Homo sapiens: one gene and its partners. The protein of the gene in region 3 purifies or fractionates together with the protein of the main gene of each other region. This does not show direct contact. Each region holds a gene or a part of one and is shown on either strand. Other genes may lie near its edges. The genes, in order: RPSA2, CLPTM1 and OR5M11.

Region 1 (3,657 bases), on a different chromosome or scaffold from region 3:
ATTATAATTATGCATGCTAATTTTTAACATCTTATAATTTAAGGCAGTGTGGAAGAAAGTCAAATATGAATGAGCTATACGTCTTTTTCCAATAGAATTATCTCTGTGTTTGTTTTCCTGTATACAAAAATAAATGTTATCCTTGTATTTTTTTTCTAACTTGTATATTTGTTGTGTAGGTTTGTTGTGAATGGTTTTCTAATTCTGCGTAGATGAGTCATCATAAAATACTCTTTTTTTTTGAGATGGACTCTTGCTCTTCTTGCCCAGGCTGGAGTGTAATGGCGCGATCTCAGCTCACTGCAACTTCTGCCTCCTGGGTTGAAATGATTCTAGTGCCTCAGCCTCCTATGTAGCTGAGATTACAGGCATGTGCCAACATGCCTGGCTAATATTTTTGTATTTTTAGTAGAGACAGGGTTTCTCCATGTTGGTCAGGCTGGTCTTGAACTCCCAACCTCAGGTGATCTGCCCGCCTCAGCTTCCCAATGTACTGAGATTACAGGTGTGAGCCACCATGCTCAGCCCATAAAATTTTTATAATTTCAACAACCTATTTATTTGTAAATCTATATGATTTCTGTGTGGGAGAAACACTTTTGGATTTGAATATAATTTAAAACTATCATAACTCTGTATCTCTTTTAGTTATTATTGTTTATTTCTTGTCAAAAAAAAACAAAATTTACCACAAAATATTTTTAAATATTTAGTCATATCAATTATCTTGACATTGTCATGCAACATATTGCTAGAATGTTTTTATCTTGCAAAGCTAAATCTTAACACATATTAAACAACAAGTACTAATTTTTAATTTTTTCTTTTTTTCTTTTTTCTTTTTTTTTTTGAGCTGGAGTCTTACTCTGCTACTCAGGCTGGAGTGCTGTGGCATGATTCACCTCACTGCAACTTCCACCTCCCGGGTTCAAGCAATTCTCACGCCTCAGCCTCCTGAATAGCTGGAATTACAGGTGCCCATCACCATGCCTGGCTAATTTTTGCATTTTTAGTAAAGATGCAGTTTCACCATGTTGGCCAGCGTGGTTTCAAACTCCTGACCTTAGGTAATCTATCTGCCTCAGCCTTTCAAAGTGCTGGGATTACAGGTATGGGCCACCATGCCTGGCCACAATTTTTTCTGTTTTATAGCGTTTTGCAAACACCACTCTGTTTTTTGTTTTTAACAGTATAACTACTTCATGTATGTCATAAAATCTGTGTCTTTTTGTGATTGGCTCATTTCATTTTGCATAATGCCATCAAGATTTATATTTATAGTTGGTAGAATATTTCCTGCTTTTGAATACTGAGTATATTCCAGAATATATATATATATTTTTTGAGACAGTCTTGCCCTGTCACCTAGGCTGGAGTGCAGTGGGGCGATCTTGGCTCACTGCAACCTCTGCCTCCTGGGTTCAAGCAATTCTTTTGCCTCAGCCTCCCGAGTAGCTGGGATTACAGGCACGTGCCAACACGTTTGGCTAATTTTTGTATTTTTTTTTTCAGTAAGGACAGGGTTCACCATTGTTGGTCTGGTTGATCTCGAACTCCTTACCTTGTGATCTGCCTGCCTTGGCCTCCCAAAGTGCTGGGATTACAGGTGTGAACCACCGTGCCTGGGAAGAATTTTTATATTTCAAATTATATCTACTGAATGATTTATTGAAAGATATTTGCATTGCTTTTACCTATTTGCTTACAGTAACAATGCTGCAGCTTTTCCGCGCTACCTGCAGAGGGGTCCATACGGCGTTGTTCTGGATTCCCGTCGTAACTTAAAGGGAAACTTTCACAATGTCCGGAGCCCTTGATGTCCTGCAAATGAAGGAGGAGGATGTCCTTAAGTTCCTTGCAGCAGGAACCCACTTAGGTGGCACCAATCTTGACTTCCAGATGGAACACTACATCTATAAAAGGAAAAGTGATGGCATCTATATCATAAATCTCAAGAGGACCTGGGAGAAGCTTCTGCTGGCAGCTCGTGCTATTGTTGCCATTGAAAACCCTGCTGATGTCAGTGTTATATCCTCCAGGAATACTGGCCAGAGGGCTGTGCTGAAGTTTGCTGCTGCCACTGGAGCCACTCCAATTGCTGGCCGCTTCACTCCTGGAACCTTCACTAACCAGATCCAGGCAGCCTTCTGGGAGCCACGGCTTCTTGTGGTTACTGACCCCAGGGCTGACCACCAGCCTCTCACGGAGGCATCTTATGTTAACCTACCTACCATTGCGCTGTGTAACACAGATTCTCCTCTGCGCTATGTGGACATTGCCATCCCATGCAACAACAAGGGAGCTCACTCAGTGGGTTTGATGTGGTGGATGCTGGCTCGGGAAGTTCTGCGCATGCGTGGCACCATTTCCCGTGAACACCCATGGGAGGTCATGCCTGATCTGTACTTCTACAGAGATCCTGAAGAGATTGAAAAAGAAGAGCAGGCTGCTGCTGAGAAGGCAGTGACCAAGGAGGAATTTCAGGGTGAATGGACTGCTCCCTCTCCTGAGTTCACTGCTACTCAGCCTGAGGTTGCAGACTGGTCTGAAGGTGTACAGGTGCCCTCTGTGCCTATTCAGCAATTCCCTACTGAAGACTGGAGCGCTCAGCCTGCCACGGAAGACTGGTCTGCAGCTCCCACTGCTCAGGCCACTGAATGGGTAGGAGCAACCACTGACTGGTCTTAAGCTGTTCTTGCATAGGCTCTTAAGCAGCATGGAAAAATGGTTGATGGAAAATAAACATCAGTTTCTAAAAAAAAAAAAAAAAAAAATGCTGCAATAATTATGAGTCTATAAATGACTACTTATATGACCATATATGTGAAAGTTTATATATGTGCTGCATTCTATTTTATTAGTCTACTTTTTCACCTTTATACTCATATCAAATTGTTTAATTTGGTAGCTTTGTAATGTGTTTTGAATCAGGCACTTTAATGCCTGCAGCATTCTTTCTTTCTTTTTTTTTTTTTAATATTGTTGGGTAGTTTGTTTTTCTTTTGAGTCTCTGTATACTTTTGAGGTTGGTGTTTCTATTTCTTCAAAAATGCAATGAGAAATTTGAAAAATATTGCATTAAATCTGTAGATTGCATTGAGCAGGATGGACTCTGCAATATTAAGTATTTCAACCTTTGTGTAAGAGCACACTCAAGAGTGTGTTGTTTAGTTTCTATATATTTGTAAATTTTTCAGTTTTTTTTTTTTGCTTTTATCGTTGTATATTCTCATTCCATTTTGGTCATAGAATGTAGTTCATAGAAATTTACTTTTAAAAAATTTGATAAGACTTCCTTTTTGTCCTAAGATGTGGTCTTTCAAGGGAAATGTTGTATGAGCTATTGAGAAGGGTGTGTATTCTGATGTTGTTGAGGAGTGTTCTCCATAACTCTGTTTGGAATAATTGTTTTATACTGCCTTTAAGTAGTCTGTTCTTTTATTAACATTCTTTCTTGTTTTAGTTTTATTACAAAAAGTGTGGTATTAAAATATATTGTTCTAATTATATTGCTTTCTGTGTGTTTCTTCCATTCTGTCAATATTTGCTTTATATACTTGGAACCCTAATGTGAGACACACACACACACACACACACACACACACACAAATTTGTCATAGATTCCCTGTGAATGAATCTATTATTTTTTGATGTCCT
Region 2 (3,657 bases), on a different chromosome or scaffold from region 3:
GTGATCCACCTACCTTGGTCTCCCAAAGTGCTGGGATTACAGGCGTGAGACACCGCGTCCAGCCATCATTCTTTTCTTTTTGAGATGGGGTCTTGCTCTGTTGCCTAGGCTGAAGTGCAGTGGTGCAATTACAGCTCACTGCAGCCTCAACCTCCTGGGCTCAAGCAATCTTTTCACCTCAGCCTCCCAAGTAGCTGGGACAACAGGCATGCACCACCATGCCCAGCTAATTTTTTGTAGAGATGGGGTCTCAACATGTTTCCCAGGCTGGTCTCAAACTCCTCTGCTCAAGCGATCCTCTCACCTCAGCCTCTCAAAGTGCTGGAATTACAGGCATGAACCACCCCACCTGGCTGGACTTTCTGACCTGCACTGAGAGGTGACTCCCACAGAGACCTCAAGCCCAGCCCCCAGGCCTTGCCACGAGATCCAAGGAAGGACCAGGGCCTGGCAGGCCCAGCAGGGGGATCTGCTTCCAAGGGCTTGGATCTAAGTCGAAGCTTCAGGGTGGGGTCCAAGTGGACTTAAAAGGCAGGAGAGCTGGGCACAGTGGCATGTGCCTGTAGGCACAGCTACTCAGGAGGCTGAGGTGGGAGAATGGCCAGAGCCCAGGAGTTTAAGACTGTAGTGTGCCATGATCGCAACTGCAAATAGCCAGTGCACTCCAGCCTGGGCAACACAGGAAGACCCCATCTCTAAAAAAGATAGGGAGAGTGAGGAGAACACAATGTGGCCAACTGAATTCGAGCTCTGCACAAGGATCAGAGAGGTTCAGTGCTCGCCTTTGTCTCCACCCAGTGCCCCTGGACAACTTGCCTCCCTTCTTGAAGCCTCAGTTTCCTCATCTGGATCAAGTGAGAATAGTCCCCCTTCCCTGGGAGGCAAGGAGACTTGATGAGATAATGAGGAAGACTTGGGCAGAGAGGGGCCAGCTGGAGGTAGCAGGGAGTAGCACCCAGGAGCCCACAGACTGGGTTTCCATCTGCGTACTTGCCACACACTATGTGACCCCTTGGCATGAGCCCCGTTTGCCTCATCTGCAAAATGGGGTGGTAACATGACCCATTGCATAAGGTTGACATGTTATATGTGTGTTAACTCGTTAGATTAGGAAGCTGTTGTCTGAAGTGCCCAGGGCAGGGTCTGGCCCATAGTAGGAGCTCCATGTCGGTCAGCTGCTTCTTCCTGTTGAGTGAGCTTAACGAGAGCTCGTTGACTGAGCTGTGTGCCAGTGCTCCAGGTAGTCCCTGCAGTGGTGCCCTCGGGTCAGTGCTGTGGGAACTTCGCATCCTCTAGGTGGGGCCCTGAGGCTCAGAGAGAAGCTGAGCTCACACGGCCATGGCAGGTAGAGCGGGCGTCTGAGTCTGTCTGACTCCAGCATTTACCTCTCTGCCACCCAGCTACATGCCCCACCCTGAGTACTCAGTAAATGGCCAGAGAGTTGAGGGGGAGGAAACTGCTGCAGATGGGTGCCAGGCAGGGCTTTAACGTTTCCCTCACCCCAGTTGCCCAGCCTGCCCACCTGACCTTCCGTCTTTTGCAGAGCGTCCAGCAGAACGGCTCCATCTACATCCACGTTTACTTCACCAAGAGTGGCTTCCACCCAGACCCCCGGCAGAAGGCCCTGTACCGCCGGCTTGCCACAGTCCACATGTCCCGGAGTAAGTCGCTCCCCTGCAGCCAGGACCCACTGTCCAGGAGGCCAGCATCCTGGGAGCCCCCAGGCTAATGTGGCGGACAAATCCCAAGTCCAGGAGGGCAGGCAGGAAGCCTGTGCTCAAAGAGGGTGGGATTGGCAGGGCAGGCTCAAGCCCCACCCAGCCTGAAAGAGCCCTGTGGACACTAAGCAGGGATACCCACGGAGGAAGGGAGACCCACGGAGGCTCAGGGACCAGAGAGAAATTGGCCAGAAAAAGCAGCTGGAGACAGGGACTCTTGGAGAGGAGGAGACGTCCTTCACCAAGGGGGAAGGGCCAGGGTTGACTTTTGCACAGTAGGGGCCTGATAGAAGTAGACACTCAAAAATAATTTGTGGGCTGGGTGCAGTGGTTCATGCCTGTAATCCTAGCACTTTGGGAGACAAGGTGGGCAGATTGCTTGAGCCCAGGAGTTTGAGACCAGCCTGGGAAACATGACAAAACCCTGTCTCTACCAAAAAAGACACAAAAACTAGCTGGGCGTGTGCCTGTAGTCCCAGCTGCTCAGGAGGCTGAGGTGGGAGGATCGCTTGAGCCCAGGAGGTGGAGGTTGCAGTGAGCCAGAATCACACCACTGCACTCCAGCCTGGGTGACAGACCGAGAACCTGTCTCAAAAAGATAGATAGAGGCCGGGCACAGTGGCTCACGCCTGTAATCCCAGGACTTTGGGAGGCCGAGGCGGGTGAATCACAAGGTCAAGAGATAGAGACCATCCTGGCCAACACGGTGAAACCCCGTCTCTACTAAAAATACAAAAATTAGCTGGGTGTAGTAGCATGCTCCTGTAGTCCCAGCTACTTGGGAGGCTGAGGCAGGAGAATCGCTTGAATCCAGGAGGCGGAGGTTGCATTGAGCTGAGATCACGCCATTGCACTCCAGCCTGGTGACACAGCAAGACTCCGTCTCCGTCTCAAAAAAAAAAAAAATAGATAAAATTCAAAGAACAGTGTGGGCAACATAATGAGACTTCGTTGCTACAAAAATTAATAGCCAGGTATGGTGGTGAGCACCTGTGGTTCCAGCTACATGGGAGGCTGAGGTGGGAGGATCGCTTGAACCTGGGAGGTCAAGGATGCAGTGAGCTGTGATTGCACTACAGCTTTCCAGCCTGGGCGACAGAGCAAGTCCACGTCTCTGAAAAAACAATAGTAATAAAAAATAAGACTACCACTTCTACTCCCATGATAACTCATTAATCCATTAAACCACTAATCCATGAATGGGTTAATCAGTTCCTGAGGGGAGGGTCCTCATGACCCAGTCACCTCTTAAAAGCCTCATCTCTCAGTACTGGCACATTGGGGATTAAGTTTCACTGGGAGTGGGGAGTACTAGAGTACATCAGTAGTCCCAGCTACTTGGGAGGCTGAGGTGGGAGAATCAGCATGAGTTTTGGCCAGGACAAACATTCAAACCATAGCATTGTCCGTCCTCTTGTTTTCGAGAAGTTAATAATTGTTGTCATCTTTCTGCTTGCCTGGCTCTTTTTTTTTTTTTTTTTGAGACAGGGTCTCACTATGTCGCCCAGGCTGGAGTGCAGTGGACTATCTCAGCTCACCACAATTTCCACCTCCCAAGTTCAAGCGATTCTCCCACCTTAGCCTCCAAAATAGCTGGGACTACAGGCACACGCCACTACGCCCGGCTAGTTTTTGTATTTTTAGTAGAGACGGGGTTTCGCCATGTTGGCCAGGCTGGTCTCAAACTCCTGACCTCAAGTGATCGTCTGCCTCGGCCTCCCAAAGTGCTGGGATTACAGGTGTGAGCTGCCACACCCAGCCTTGCTTGGTTCTCTGTGAGCTTTTTCCCTGAGTCCTCTGTCTCCTGATGGGCAGCCGTAGAAATCTCTTGCTGTACCTGTTTGAGCGGAGCTGGAGAATGGCTTCCTCAGAAAGCCCCCCATTCTTCTAACGGGAGTTCTGTGTACTCCACCTAGCTTTCACTTTATTGAGGACTATT
Region 3 (2,803 bases):
CATTTTGAGATGAGACAAGAATTGAGAAGCCTGTAATAAAAATTTCAAGTATGAAAGAATGGGCAAAAATTAAAAACTTCTCGAAAGAAAGGAAAATGTGAATTAGCAAAGATTCTGATGTGAAGAGAGGTAAAAAGCCAAAAGGATTTGTAATACCTCTTGTTAGATACAAGTTGTGATTAAAAGATTAAATACCAACTCTGAAAATATTAATTTATTTTCTTTCTAAACACATTAAGTCATTGCTCTAAACATCCTCAAGATACTATATGAAAATTTATTTTATTTCACAGTTCTTTGTTCATTTATTTGGCATATGTTTATTGAGCCATTCTGACTGTGCATTTTGAGCTATGATCTTGGAACACTTGCATTAGAATCCTACAGATAATCATTAGAGATGAAGATTCCAGTACCCCACATAAGAATTTCTGCAAAAACCTGTGATATGGGCTAATAAACAAGCTTCCCAAGAATTGCTTCTACACTAAGTTTCAATAATCACTTAATTCTCCTGAGAACATGACATCACGCAAGGCTACATGGAGATAAATCTGTGAGTAAAAATTGCAAGTCATTCATTCTTACATGCTCTCCTTTTTGCATTTTAAGAAAATTTAGTATAAAAATATGTGTTGAGAAGTATAATTAAAAAATGAACTTCACTTTGTCCCTGCTCTCAACACCATTATGTGATGAGAAAGTATATACTTTATAATGATACAATGGGGGCTAAATAATAAATTAGAGAAATATAGAATACTCTGGAAATAAAGAAGAGAGAATTCAGTGACACGTATTAGGAGAAATGGATGAGAAATGCTTCACAAAGAAGTGGCCTTTAAAGTGGGTCATGTAGCATGAATAGAATTAGGTTTTAAAAAGTACAGGAAGATAGAAGAGATGTAGCTCAGTCATATAGATAGATAGATAGATAGATAGATAGATAGATGATGGATAGATAGATACAGGTGTAGGTATAGATATATCTATAGGTGTAGAGAAAGAATATATTAGTAATGTAATGCCTAGGCAAATGATATAATGACATTGTAGACTTACAAAATTATAGTAAGTCTACCATAATTACCAAAACCAGTTTATGGTAGTACCCAGAAATAGATAACTTTCGATGATATATGAAGATGTGGAGAAAAACTAATTCAAATGAACATTAACATGGTATGTGCATTTGTTTATATTGGCTTTATTTCCATAGCTTGAAGAGCAAACTGTCAGGAAATGTCCAACACAAATGGCAGTGCAATCACAGAATTCATTTTACTTGGGCTCACAGATTGCCCGGAACTCCAGTCTCTGCTTTTTGTGCTGTTTCTGGTTGTTTACCTCGTCACCCTGCTAGGCAACCTGGGCATGATAATGTTAATGAGACTGGACTCTCGCCTTCACACGCCCATGTACTTCTTCCTCACTAACTTAGCCTTTGTGGATTTGTGCTATACATCAAATGCAACCCCGCAGATGTCGACTAATATCGTATCTGAGAAGACCATTTCCTTTGCTGGTTGCTTTACACAGTGCTACATTTTCATTGCCCTTCTACTCACTGAGTTTTACATGCTGGCAGCAATGGCCTATGACCGCTATGTGGCCATATATGACCCTCTGCGCTACAGTGTGAAAACGTCCAGGAGAGTTTGCATCTGCTTGGCCACATTTCCCTATGTCTATGGCTTCTCAGATGGACTCTTCCAGGCCATCCTGACCTTCCGCCTGACCTTCTGTAGATCCAGTGTCATCAACCACTTCTACTGTGCTGACCCGCCGCTCATTAAGCTTTCTTGTTCTGATACTTATGTCAAAGAGCATGCCATGTTCATATCTGCTGGCTTCAACCTCTCCAGCTCCCTCACCATCGTCTTGGTGTCCTATGCCTTCATTCTTGCTGCCATCCTCCGGATCAAATCAGCAGAGGGAAGGCACAAGGCATTCTCCACCTGTGGTTCCCATATGATGGCTGTCACCCTGTTTTATGGGACTCTCTTTTGCATGTATATAAGACCACCAACAGATAAGACTGTTGAGGAATCTAAAATAATAGCTGTCTTTTACACCTTTGTGAGTCCGGTACTTAATCCATTGATCTACAGTCTGAGGAATAAAGATGTGAAGCAGGCCTTGAAGAATGTCCTGAGATGAAATATTGTCATGACCATGGTGATGCCTTTGTTTCCTAATAAACATTAAATCGAAATCTTTGGCTCACATGTCCTAGCGTTCTGATGGTGAGTTTTAATATTCTCTGTGAGTCTATGTTGAGTGTCTCAGCTAAAAAGCTCATGCTGGGTAAAAATGAGATTTTTCTAGGCTTTGCTCCTCCACATATATTCCATGAATCAGCAGCATGAGCTCTTCCTTGGAGGTTGTTACACGTACAGAATCAAAGTCTGCACCTCAGGTGCACTGTATTTAAATATGTGTTTTATCCAAACTCCTAGATGATTGATAAGCACACTGAATTTTGAGGAGCACTGCTGTGGGTGAAACGTGGCATGCCCTGGAACACTGTTGTGCTCTTTTTGTTTACAATGGCAAACAAAATAAATGTGCTCCCAGCCCAATTTCTTGAATGTATTCTATTCTTATTCTCGCCTGCTGCTTCAGCAGAGATGTCTTTAAGAAACCCATTCTTCTGCACTCCAAGAAATCCATTCTTCTGTACTCCTTTCCTGACTTGCTGTGGTAGACCAGAAACTAGGGGCCATGGTGATGGCTTCTGGTTTTTATAAGTGCTCTTACATAGTGAAGAGTGGCAATGGAAAAAGAGGGGAAGAGAATGATT

The links.
Region 1: the proteins of OR5M11 (region 3) and RPSA2 purify together in Homo sapiens (affinity purification with mass spectrometry; one large-scale study listed by BioGRID and IntAct). This does not show direct contact.
Region 2: the proteins of OR5M11 (region 3) and CLPTM1 purify together in Homo sapiens (affinity purification with mass spectrometry; one large-scale study listed by BioGRID and IntAct). This does not show direct contact.

The regions. Positions count from the first base shown.
Region 1 is NC_000019.10:23,825,362-23,829,018, forward strand, and holds the end of RPSA2 (small ribosomal subunit protein uS2B), read left to right. Parts: intron 1-853; exon of another isoform or gene 854-974; intron 975-1,708; 5' UTR 1,709-1,800; coding exon 1,801-2,688; 3' UTR 2,689-3,507; downstream 3,508-3,657. UniProt on the Homo sapiens protein: Required for the assembly and/or stability of the 40S ribosomal subunit. Required for the processing of the 20S rRNA-precursor to mature 18S rRNA in a late step of the maturation of 40S ribosomal subunits. Also functions as a cell surface receptor for laminin.
Region 2 is NC_000019.10:44,975,800-44,979,456, forward strand, and holds part of CLPTM1 (putative lipid scramblase CLPTM1), read left to right. Parts: intron 1-1,543; coding exon 1,544-1,661; intron 1,662-3,657. UniProt on the Homo sapiens protein: Involved in GABAergic but not glutamatergic transmission. Binds and traps GABAA receptors in the endoplasmic reticulum (ER).
Region 3 is NC_000011.10:56,541,697-56,544,499, reverse strand, and holds OR5M11 (olfactory receptor 5M11), read left to right. Parts: upstream 1-1,242; coding exon 1,243-2,160; downstream 2,161-2,803. UniProt on the Homo sapiens protein: Odorant receptor.